2 separate regions of the Homo sapiens genome follow, and region 1 is linked to region 2. The links come from fine-mapping of genetic effects on gene expression. A gene starts in region 2. The other region holds a variant in brackets. All regions are shown on one strand. Distances are between the middles of the regions. Region 1 overlaps SKAP2 (src kinase associated phosphoprotein 2). Region 2 holds the start of HOXA9 (homeobox A9).

Region 1 (5,380 bases), 320 kb after region 2:
ATGTTTACTAGCACTTTATGAAGTTCCTTCCTACCTTATATTTGAAATCAGAGCACTCTTCTTTTGTTAAAAAAATTTTTTTTTAGAGATGGGGTCTTGGTCTGTTGCCCAGGCTGGAATGCAGTGGTGCAGTTATAGCTCACTGCAGCCTCAAACTCCTGGGCTCAAGCGGTCCTCTTACCTCAGCCTCCCACAGATGTGACTATAGGTGCAGGCCACCACACCCGGCTAATTGTTTTTATTTTTATTTAGAGATGTGGTCTTGCTATGTTGCCCAGCCTGGTGTCTAATTCCTGGCCACAAGCGATCTTCTGGCCTCAAGCATGCTGAGTAGCTGAGATTACAGGCGTGAGCACTGCCACCAGCCTAGCACTCTTCTTTTCATAAGAGAAATATTGTAAGGGATCATTGAGTGTTCTGAAAAGGACTTTGAACATCTGAAAAGAAAGAGAAATTAAGTTCCAAAGAATGAGTAGTATTTATGTGTTCCTTAGAATTTTAACTGTGGGAGTAACATCACCATATTTACTGTACCTAGTAGTAGAATCCCTAAGGATGACAATATAGCCATCTCTATGTTCTGCCCTTATCATCTTAATGAGAGATGTCTCTGATGACAGTTGCTCACAAAGTGGCAAAATTATAAGGAAATAGGAATATGTATTTTTAAAAAATTATTTGGACAGTGTTGTCTTGAGAGAGGCTATTTTCTCTACCAAAAATGTGGTAACAAATAGGGTGACACCCATCAAATGGGTGTCAGAGGACAAAGATACCCTTTTGGAGAGACAAGTAGCATTAATCTGAATCTGCCAGGAACTGTGGTTCAAAAGTAATACTATAGGCACTCTGCGGTTCCTATGGGGATTTTCCTTGTGCTTTAAGGGTAATCCCTGAGGTGGCTGTTTTTCTGTCAGGTAACTTGAATTCAACAGTCAAATACTTAATGTAGAATTAAGCATACTTTTTTCTTTGTTGTGAAATCCGGGTGACAAATGAATGCTTATGTGTAACTGGGCTAGCAAATATTTGTGTTTTTTTAAAAAAATTATTTTAAATGATTATATGGAAAAAATTGAAACCACAAGATCTTGTGGAGATTAATTAGCCTAAAATAGAAAAGTCAATCAAAAAATCGACCAACGAACCTAGGATTTGAAAATCAAGTTGGAAACTGGCCAGAACATTAAAAAGTAATAACATACCATTGAATGAAACTGAAAGTGTCTAGTTTGTAAATTACCCTTACTTGAATTTAAAAAGATTATGAAAATTTTAAAGCAGTTTTTTCTATAAAAGATTTTAAAAGATTTGTGCTCTGGAAAATGCAACAGATTATTTTTAATCCTCTCTAAAAATGTATAAAATGTATAAAAATGTATAAAATGATTTTATACAAAATATTCATACAGCTTCAAATTATTAGTTTCTCATCATAATTTTTCAAATTATTGAATAGGTAAATGGAATTACTTGTATTATGTTTTCTGTTGTGCTTCCTGGGTTTTGTTGTTGTTGTTGTTACTGTTATCTTGGTTTTGTTCGTTTGGATATACACTCTGTTTTACCCTGCTTCTACTTTTTGGATTCTTCTTTGTAGAGATCATCATAATTTTGGACTATATCCTTTTGTGTCATAAATAAGCAATTGTATAATGACCTTCAAAAATTCTTACTATATCTAAGTTACAATGGCTATAAAATAAAATAAGACCTGTTTTTACCTAGTTTTAAAAGTTTTCTTTGTTTTTCCATGACAATGACTCAATTTACTAGTAGAATTTACCTCTTCTAACAAAGTAACATTAACATTAAGTAACATTACTTTAAATGGCTAAAGTATAAAAGGCAGTTCTCTGATTTTTTTTTTTTTTAACAGGTGATGCAGAAGATGGGGAAGAATATGATGACCCTTTTGCTGGGCCTCCAGACACTATTTCATTAGCCTCAGAACGATATGATAAAGACGATGAAGCCCCCTCTGATGGTATGTGACATTTTCCCACGTAACTCTGACACTCACACAAAACAATGCTATATATATGGGTGGTAGTTTTATGAGAAAGCAGATGAACATAGAGGCTTCGGTTAACTTACCTTTACCAAAACCTTTTAAGGAACAGAAGAGCTCTCTCTAGTGGTTCTGGTGAGGTTTTCCTAAGTATGTAGTTGGTTCTTTTTCTTGGAAATTTTCTTTACTAAAATTTTTGAGAGAGTGCCTGTATCATCATATGAATATTATTAGTAACAGTTTGATAGTTAATTTAATATTATCAGATTCTTGCTTAATTTTATTATGCTACTTGAAGGCTTACTGTATTATTTATTTTATAAATAATAAAAAAGATTTTTGATCTATTTTTTTCTGAAAACTTTATACAAAATGAGTTAATAAAATATTAAGTTAATTTTCCGACATTGCCTCTTCACACTGAGACAGGTTTTTATCAAATGCTTCTTTTAATGCGCATTTTCA[T/C]TTTTATATTGTCACTTAAAAGTGGACCATATTATGCAGTAATATTGCAGTGTTTGTATTAACTGAATTAGTAATAAATTTATCTCTTAGTAATTTCTAAAAGCTATTGAATGTTGCCAAAGTTATGAAACTTGTTTTTAGTGTAGTATGTACTTTCTCTGTTATAGCCATTGAGTACATCTGCATTATAGAAACCTTATAAGGGTAATATATAGTTATAAATTAAGAATGTGTATCAATAAATTAGTCATGCATATTAATTTGTAGCACTCAAAGTTTCACATAGACATAGAAATGAATAATACCTTCTGCCACTATGTGATGATCAAACTGTGCAGTTCCATCTCTAAATACAATTGCTGAATGAAAATATGCTTCCTGCAACAGAGCACTCCACATTTTATGTTATCCAGATTATTCCCTTTGGAAACATAAATTGCTTTTATGAGGTATAAAATTATGTCTGTTGCAGAACGGGGATAAGTCAAGTACATGCATAAGTGATAAACATTCTAACCAGTGATTCAGTACAAAACAATCTTTTTTTATATCCAGAACTTTGTACAAAGTGTAGCAATAATAGTCATATCTATTTTATGTTGAATTTTATGCTTCGGCAAACATTTAATTTCTATTTTTAAAGGGAGGGTTTTTTTTTGCTGTTATATTCACTTTCTATCTTTTAAAGAGATAAGCATTTCTTTTCTCTTCACCAAAACAGAGCATTACCCTTTCCAACCTCATCTTCAAAAGCATTTCTACTAGAAAATGTTTTATAATCAAAGAAATAATATTTTCAGGCAAAACAATGAATTATTATTTAAGTGGTACTATTTTTCAGACACATTACAATTGCTTTATTTCTCTGTAAAATGTTGGTATATATGAATGTATGTGTGTATACACATACACAGACAGAATATTTATACTAAGAGAGACATACGGAGAATATATTCATAGACTATATAGACATAGTTTCTTAAAATAGCATAAACATTTTGATATACAGGGGAGTGCTATGTGTATTCTTGAAAAATTTGCAACCTAAAAAGAAATTCAACAATTAAATATCTATGAGAGCCAGAAATCTTCCAGTAGCTTGTTAGAAAAAGTAAATTATTATTAAATTATAGTGCATTTACATTATTGTTTTCTTTTTAATAGTAAATAATTTATCATATATTTTTATAACAAAATATTCAGGAAATACACTAAAAGATTGTTGTTAAAAGGTTATTTTATTGATTTTAAATATTATTTAATAACATTTATATGTAACATCAAGTTTTTTTGTTAATAGTGCCTATTCATTAGTGTTTAAGCAATTCTTGAGCAGATTAAAACTTTTACCTGTAGTATTACTCATTTTTGATATATAAATAATACTGTTTTTGATACTTTCACATTTTCTTCTAAGAATATCATTATTAAAATTAATTTTTAAACTACCACTTGGACATTTAATATTCACTCTAAAATATCATCTCAATGTATCAGTTTTTCTCTCTTCAACTTAGATTTTGTGTGTGTTCTCTTTCCTTTGATGAATAAATTTGCTTCATTATGTGACCTCAGTCCAATAATATATTAATTATAAAAAAGATAATGCATTTAACAATAAGCATAACCGAATTAGCACAGGTCACCAAAAGGCCTTTTGTCAAATCAGATTGTTGTTTTGTCCTTTTGACTTTTACCTTATGGAAGGCACTAAGAAAGTATCTAAACTTCAATGGGTTATAAACTCTAAACATGATATGTATTTTTCATAATGCTAATGTAATTTTCAAGGTACTGAAAAGGTCAAACCTGCACATCTCTATGTGCATTCTAAGTCTGTCTTTTGCTTTAATATTTATTTTTCTCTATTCCTCTGGTTCAAAAGTTCACTCAGTTCCCAAATGGCCACCTAATTTTCCAGTTATTCCCCCAAGCCATATGTGTTTTGGTTTCTTTATGGTTTATTAGGTACTGTAGGAAAGCAGCATAAGTTATATCTTCTAATGAAATTCAAGCACACTTCAGTGATGCTTCGACTTGATTGCTGGTAGCAATTAAATCATAGCCAAGGAGAATAATGCATAATCTTACAAGGTCCAGGCACCGTATAGAAATTGAATGGGGATGAAAACAACAAAAAGAAAGTTTCCAAACCCTGCCAGGTACGTTGTTTTCAGCCTGCCTTTTTTTTTTTATTGGCCAACTGCCTGATTGATAGCAAAATCATAACTTGCTGCATGCTAACAGGCAGAGTTCACTTGTAGGTTATTGTGAGCTGATAAAGGGTTAGATGCAGTTTTGATTTTCGCATTGGACCTTGGTACACCAGATTAATGGAATTTCAATGAGAGACTAGAGTAGCCACAGCTTTGTCAGAGAAACAGATGGAGATTCTATAGTCATGTCTACTCATTAATACTAGTTGCCTGAAAGGTGTGCTGCTTCTCTATACAAAAGAGTTGATATAATTGATTTTTGAGTTGTACATTGGAAAAAAGTACCTTATTGATTACTAGAATTGTAACATAGATGGTGACAGATTTTTGTATAGCTTGTAGCTTAAAAATATTGTACTTTGTAAATTTTTCTTTTCCCTCTTTGGAAATGCTTCTTATGTTTTATATTTTTTGAGAAGAACTACATTTTGAGACCAATAGCAAAAAAAGAGAGAATGACATGCCAAATACCTTTTTAGGAAAAAGAATAAGAGTCTGTATTTTATTTATAAATGATTGCATGACTGCTGTTAGAGTTTCATTTTGATATTCTATTTAGAAGAAAGTATACTTATTAGAAGTTTCATTTTATTAGCTTTATGCTTGATTTTTTTCTGGAAAACAAAAAAATCGTAATAGTTTCTAGACTATTGTAGATCACTGTTAGAAGTTTTATGCTATCATGTGG
Region 2 (5,380 bases):
GTAGTCTACAGATGGGAGCCAGTCTGACCATTTTCCCTACAGAAAACAGAAAACAAACTATCTCTCCCTACTCCCAACACACACAGTTACAGATTCGTGCCCACAAAGCTGTTTCCTTTCCCTGCCTGGACTGGAGGCCCAGGAACTCTTTCGTTGCACAGCCACCGACCTGCTGTCTGAAAGGACCACACACCCCATTCCCTTCAACTCCTCCCTGCCATTTTCTGGACCAGGGCATTGGATTTATTTCAGAGATCACAGTTTCAGAAATCTCAGTCGAGAAGGGGCCGCTTTAAATTATACTCATTTATTATTTCTTTATGCATACGCAATCTCTTTCACTTCGAAAATAAAAGCAGACAAAAAAGTCAGACTATTCTGGCTCCAAACCTTTGGGCTGAAGGAAGACAATATTTGGTTTTCTGATTTTTCTCCGCTTTCTAGGCACCAGTAACATCTGCTTAACACTCAACGCCTGCTAATTGTTCAGTAACTCTCTTATTTTGGGGCTAAGGCTGTTTAAAGGAACAGCTTTTTTACTTAAAAAATACTGAAATAATCAGTGTCTTCTCAGGCATAAAACGTGGAAAAGGCATCCAGACATGCCCAGCCCATTTGCAGACACTTAAAATTGGGAGCCAGGGTTTCCTCCAGGGTTAATTTTTTAAATGAAAATCTCAGAGGCCTGGCGGACTGCGGGGTATTTAGGACACGGTGGACTGTGGTGGGGGTGGGCATGACCTAGAGGAATTTATGGGGCAAGGAAAATATTAGGGGGAGGGAGATGAGGCGGACAGGACGGGGCCATTTCGGAGTTCATTGTGTCGGCCACTTCCCTCTTCCAGGCGCGGGTGCAGGAAGGGGCACCCAGTCGGTATCCGCGCGGCTTGGCAGCCTCGCTGGTATTTGGGAGTCCCAGCCGGAAGTGTGTCAGGGTGTTTGAGGGGGGGATTACTGGAACTGCTGGTGAGGATGAAGGCAAAAGAGAGAGAGAGAGATGGAAGCGCCCGAGGCCGCCAGCCTCGCCGCCAGGGAAGTGGGCTAATGAAAAACACACTGTTGCAGGCACAGTATCCACACGTGAATTTGATTACCCCTGTTCTAGGAGTCGCTGCTTTCTGTTAGGAATTGGGGGCAGGGGGAGTTTCCTTCCAATTAACGGAGTGGCGGCGACCTTTTAATTTACCCCCAACGGGTGAGAAATAAACTTCCCCAACGTGGCCAGGCCCAGGAATGGGACTGGAGTCGATGCCCTTTTACCCCTCCCCGTTCTAATTTCCAGCCCTGGCCTTGAGCTGTGGCTGCCTCTCTTTGGGCCTTGTACCTCTCCGCCGAGTCTCCGGGCCCCGTAGGTAACCAAGGCGAGGCCCGGAGTAGCAGCTGGAAAGGGAGGAAGGAGCCCTGAAAGGCTCACGCGGCCCCGGGACAGGCCACATCGGTGCGGGCCTCCCAGGTTCCGGAGCTGCGGGGTCTCTTAGGCGAGGCTGCCTTTTCCCAAACCGAACTTGCCTTCCATTCATGCCACTTGTAGTTTTTTCCCCAGCTGGGATTCACGGAGCGCAACCAGGCTTGCAGCGCTCATGGTTAGAGCCTCTGAGGCTGGAGCACAGGGCTGGGTCGCCAGCCGCCTGCGCCTGGGAATCCTGATTGCCAGCTGATGAGAAAGGCGGGCTGGGCGCGCGTGTGCGTGGGGTCGAGGGCCGGGGACCGAGCGCGCCGCACAACCAACCAGGCCCTCAAAACCTTCGCCCTGGTGGCGGCTGGCCGCTCCCTCCTGGCCAGCTCCTCCGTGGGGTCCTCGTAGCAAAGGCGAATTTAAGGGTTGCCCGGGCGCCCCTCGCTCCAGGCGGGTAGCTGTGGGGACCTACACCCGCGGTACTCCCTGAGCGGCCGGTCCCTGCCTGGAGTGCCCTGGTAGGGCCGGCGGCGGCTCCGTTTGGGACGGATCCTGCGTTGAATTTGACTTTTCGAGGGCGGCCGCGGGTAAACTCGCCTCTCCCGGGGACCGCAGGGATTATTTACAGGGAGCTCGCCAACCAAACACAACAGTCTAACCTTTCCAAGTCCTCGTAAATTTTTACAGCTGGGAGCCACGGCGAGGCAAACGAATCTGTTGGTCGTTTCCGACTTCCCGCCAGCCTGTGTGGCTTCTGAAACAATAACTCCTTATGAAATATCATAAATATAGATTTAAATACAGTAGAGCGACAATGCGATTTGGCTGCTTTTTTATGGCTTCAATTATTGTCTAATTTTATGTGAGGGGCTCCGCTGGCCGCACTCGCACGCGGGACCCGCGCCTTCTTGATGGCGTGATTAATTGTGATATAAAATAGTCCGCTTAAGAAGTGTGTGTATGGGGGGGGAGACGGGAGAGTACAGAGACAAGGCTAGATTTGATCTTTTAATCGTCGTTGGCCACAATTAAAACAAACCCCATCGTAGAGCGGCACGATCCCTTTACATAAAAACATATGGCTTTTGCTATAAAAATTATGACTGCAAAACATCGGACCATTAATAGCGTGCGGAGTGATTTACGCGTTATTGTTCTGCTGGACGGGCACGTGACGCGCACGGCCAATGGGGGCGCGGGCGCCGGCAACTTATTAGGTGACTGTACTTCCCCCCCGGTGCCACCAAGTTGTTACATGAAATCTGCAGTTTCATAATTTCCGTGGGTCGGGCCGGGCGGGCCAGGCGCTGGGCACGGTGATGGCCACCACTGGGGCCCTGGGCAACTACTACGTGGACTCGTTCCTGCTGGGCGCCGACGCCGCGGATGAGCTGAGCGTTGGCCGCTATGCGCCGGGGACCCTGGGCCAGCCTCCCCGGCAGGCGGCGACGCTGGCCGAGCACCCCGACTTCAGCCCGTGCAGCTTCCAGTCCAAGGCGACGGTGTTTGGCGCCTCGTGGAACCCAGTGCACGCGGCGGGCGCCAACGCTGTACCCGCTGCGGTGTACCACCACCATCACCACCACCCCTACGTGCACCCCCAGGCGCCCGTGGCGGCGGCGGCGCCGGACGGCAGGTACATGCGCTCCTGGCTGGAGCCCACGCCCGGTGCGCTCTCCTTCGCGGGCTTGCCCTCCAGCCGGCCTTATGGCATTAAACCTGAACCGCTGTCGGCCAGAAGGGGTGACTGTCCCACGCTTGACACTCACACTTTGTCCCTGACTGACTATGCTTGTGGTTCTCCTCCAGTTGATAGAGAAAAACAACCCAGCGAAGGCGCCTTCTCTGAAAACAATGCTGAGAATGAGAGCGGCGGAGACAAGCCCCCCATCGATCCCAGTAAGTGTCTCCTCCCTTCAAATCCGCCGCCGCCTCCACGCCGGCCTCCCGGATCTGCTGGCCCGCCAGGTTTCTCTCGAGCCTGCCTTCGTCCTCGCTGGAAGCCTCTCGAGTTGGGGCCAGGAGCCAGAAGTTGGTGTTTGGGACGCCTCAGATAGGGCCCCAAGTCTGGAGAGCAGTGAAGAGCGGCCCGCAGGGCTACGGGAGAGGAGGCGGCTGCTGCAGCGAGAGGGGGCGGGGCGGGCACTTCGGGACGAGCCAAGACTGGCCGCCCCTCTCCTTGGCTGCCCAGGCCCAGGACCGAGATACTTTGGGCCGTTCTTCGAAAGCAGTGCAGCCCAGAGAGCCTTTTGTACAACTAGATTGTCCGTGAGCGGCGGCAGCCAGGGCAGCCGGAGCTGGGACGCTGGGGGAGACGGCCGATTCCTTCCACTTCTTGCCTTCGGCCAGTGGCGGCGTAAATCCTGCCAAGATGAGGCTGCGGGCGACCCGGGCCACAAGGGTCCCCATGACAGATTATTCAAATAAGCCACAGACGTGATCAGCGGCCTTAGGGCGCCCTGACGGCTTGCCCAGCTCCGAAGGCCTTCCAGGAAGGTTAAATAAGGAGTGGGGGGCGTAGAGGGACAGGTTGGGAAAGAAAGACGAAGTCAGTGAACGGGACAGAGGAATCCTAATCTTGCTACAGAACACAAGGCAGCATGCTTTCCCTCTGCGTGGCAAGGAGACCTGTTTCCAAATTTCATTCTATACAGCGTTTTGAGAGTGGGAGGAAGGAGAAGGGGGACAAGAGGACAGAGTAGGAGAAAGGAAGGTCTCGGAGGGGAGGGCGAGCCAAAGTTTTACTGCGTGCAATTTTAAGTGACTGTCTGTGCGTCTGTCTGCCAGGGTTCCATTGTGTCCGAGGCCTGACTGCCTTTCCTAACCAGTTCAGCAGAGTTCTGCACTTCGGCCAGAGACCCCATGCAGGAGGCTCATTTGCCCCAGCGGGATGTGCGTCTTCTGCTCCTAAACCCAGTGTTTCTCTTCCCCGCAGATAACCCAGCAGCCAACTGGCTTCATGCGCGCTCCACTCGGAAAAAGCGGTGCCCCTATACAAAACACCAGACCCTGGAACTGGAGAAAGAGTTTCTGTTCAACATGTACCTCACCAGGGACCGCAGGTACGAGGTGGCTCGACTGCTCAACCTCACCGAGAGGCAGGTCAAGATCTGGTTCCAGAACCGCAGGATGAAAATGAAGAAAATCAACAAAGACCGAGCAAAAGACGAGTGATGCCATTTGGGCTTATTTAGAAAAAAGGGTAAGCTAGAGAGAAAAAGAAAGAACTGTCCGTCCCCCTTCCGCCTTCTCCCTTCTCTCACCCCCACCCTAGCCTCCACCATCCCCGCACAAAGCGGCTCTAAACCTCAGGCCACATCTTTTCCAAGGCAAACCCTGTTCAGGCTGGCTCGTAGGCCTGCCGCTTTGATGGAGGAGGTATTGTAAGCTTTCCATTTTCTATAAGAAAAAGGAAAAGTTGAGGGGGGGGCATTAGTGCTGATAGCTGTGTGTGTTAGCTTGTATATATATTTTTAAAAATCTACCTGTTCCTGACTTAAAACAAAAGGAAAGAAACTACCTTTTTATAATGCACAACTGTTGATGGTAGGCTGTATAGTTTTTAGTCTGTGTAGTTAATTTAATTTGCAGTTTGTGCGGCAGATTGCTCTGCCAAGATACTTGAACACTGTGTTTTATTGTGGTAATTATGTTTTGTGATTCAAACTTCTGTGTACTGGGTGATGCACCCATTGTGATTGTGGAAGATAGAATTCAATTTGAACTCAGGTTGTTTATGAGGGGAAAAAAACAGTTGCATAGAGTATAGCTCTGTAGTGGAATATGTCTTCTGTATAACTAGGCTGTTAACCTATGATTGTAAAGTAGCTGTAAGAATTTCCCAGTGAAATAAAAAAAAATTTTAAGTGTTCTCGGGGATGCATAGATTCATCATTTTCTCCACCTTAAAAATGCGGGCATTTAAGTCTGTCCATTATCTATATAGTCCTGTCTTGTCTATTGTATATATAATCTATATGATTA

What was found. PIP is the estimated chance that this variant, and not a neighbour inherited with it, causes the effect. A credible set is the group of variants that fine-mapping cannot tell apart.
Region 1: its variant is the best candidate, but not a certain one, in a credible set for the expression of HOXA9 in whole blood (TOPMed, PIP 0.53).

Annotation. Positions count from the first base shown.
Region 1 is chr7:26,840,637-26,846,016 of GRCh38, reverse strand. SKAP2 (src kinase associated phosphoprotein 2) reads left to right here. Exons shown (of 13, transcript NM_003930.5): 4 at 1,880-1,987. The region is part of intron 2 of LOC124901606 (a long non-coding RNA gene); the gene reads right to left. Among named protein-coding and RNA genes, the nearest start is that of SKAP2, 21 kb to the left of the region's middle. The variant T/C (reference allele first, on the strand shown) is at 2,477.
Region 2 is chr7:27,162,793-27,168,172 of GRCh38, reverse strand. It overlaps HOXA9 (homeobox A9), which reads left to right and starts at 2,636. Exons shown (of 2, transcript NM_152739.4): 1 at 2,636-3,295; 2 at 4,332-5,380. The coding sequence starts at 2,716. The coding sequence ends at 4,570. HOXA10-HOXA9 (HOXA10-HOXA9 readthrough) reads left to right here. Exons shown (of 3, transcript NM_001433944.1): 2 at 3,206-3,295; 3 at 4,332-5,380. The coding sequence ends at 4,570. RefSeq lists enhancers at 779-1,497, 2,346-3,222, 3,223-4,100.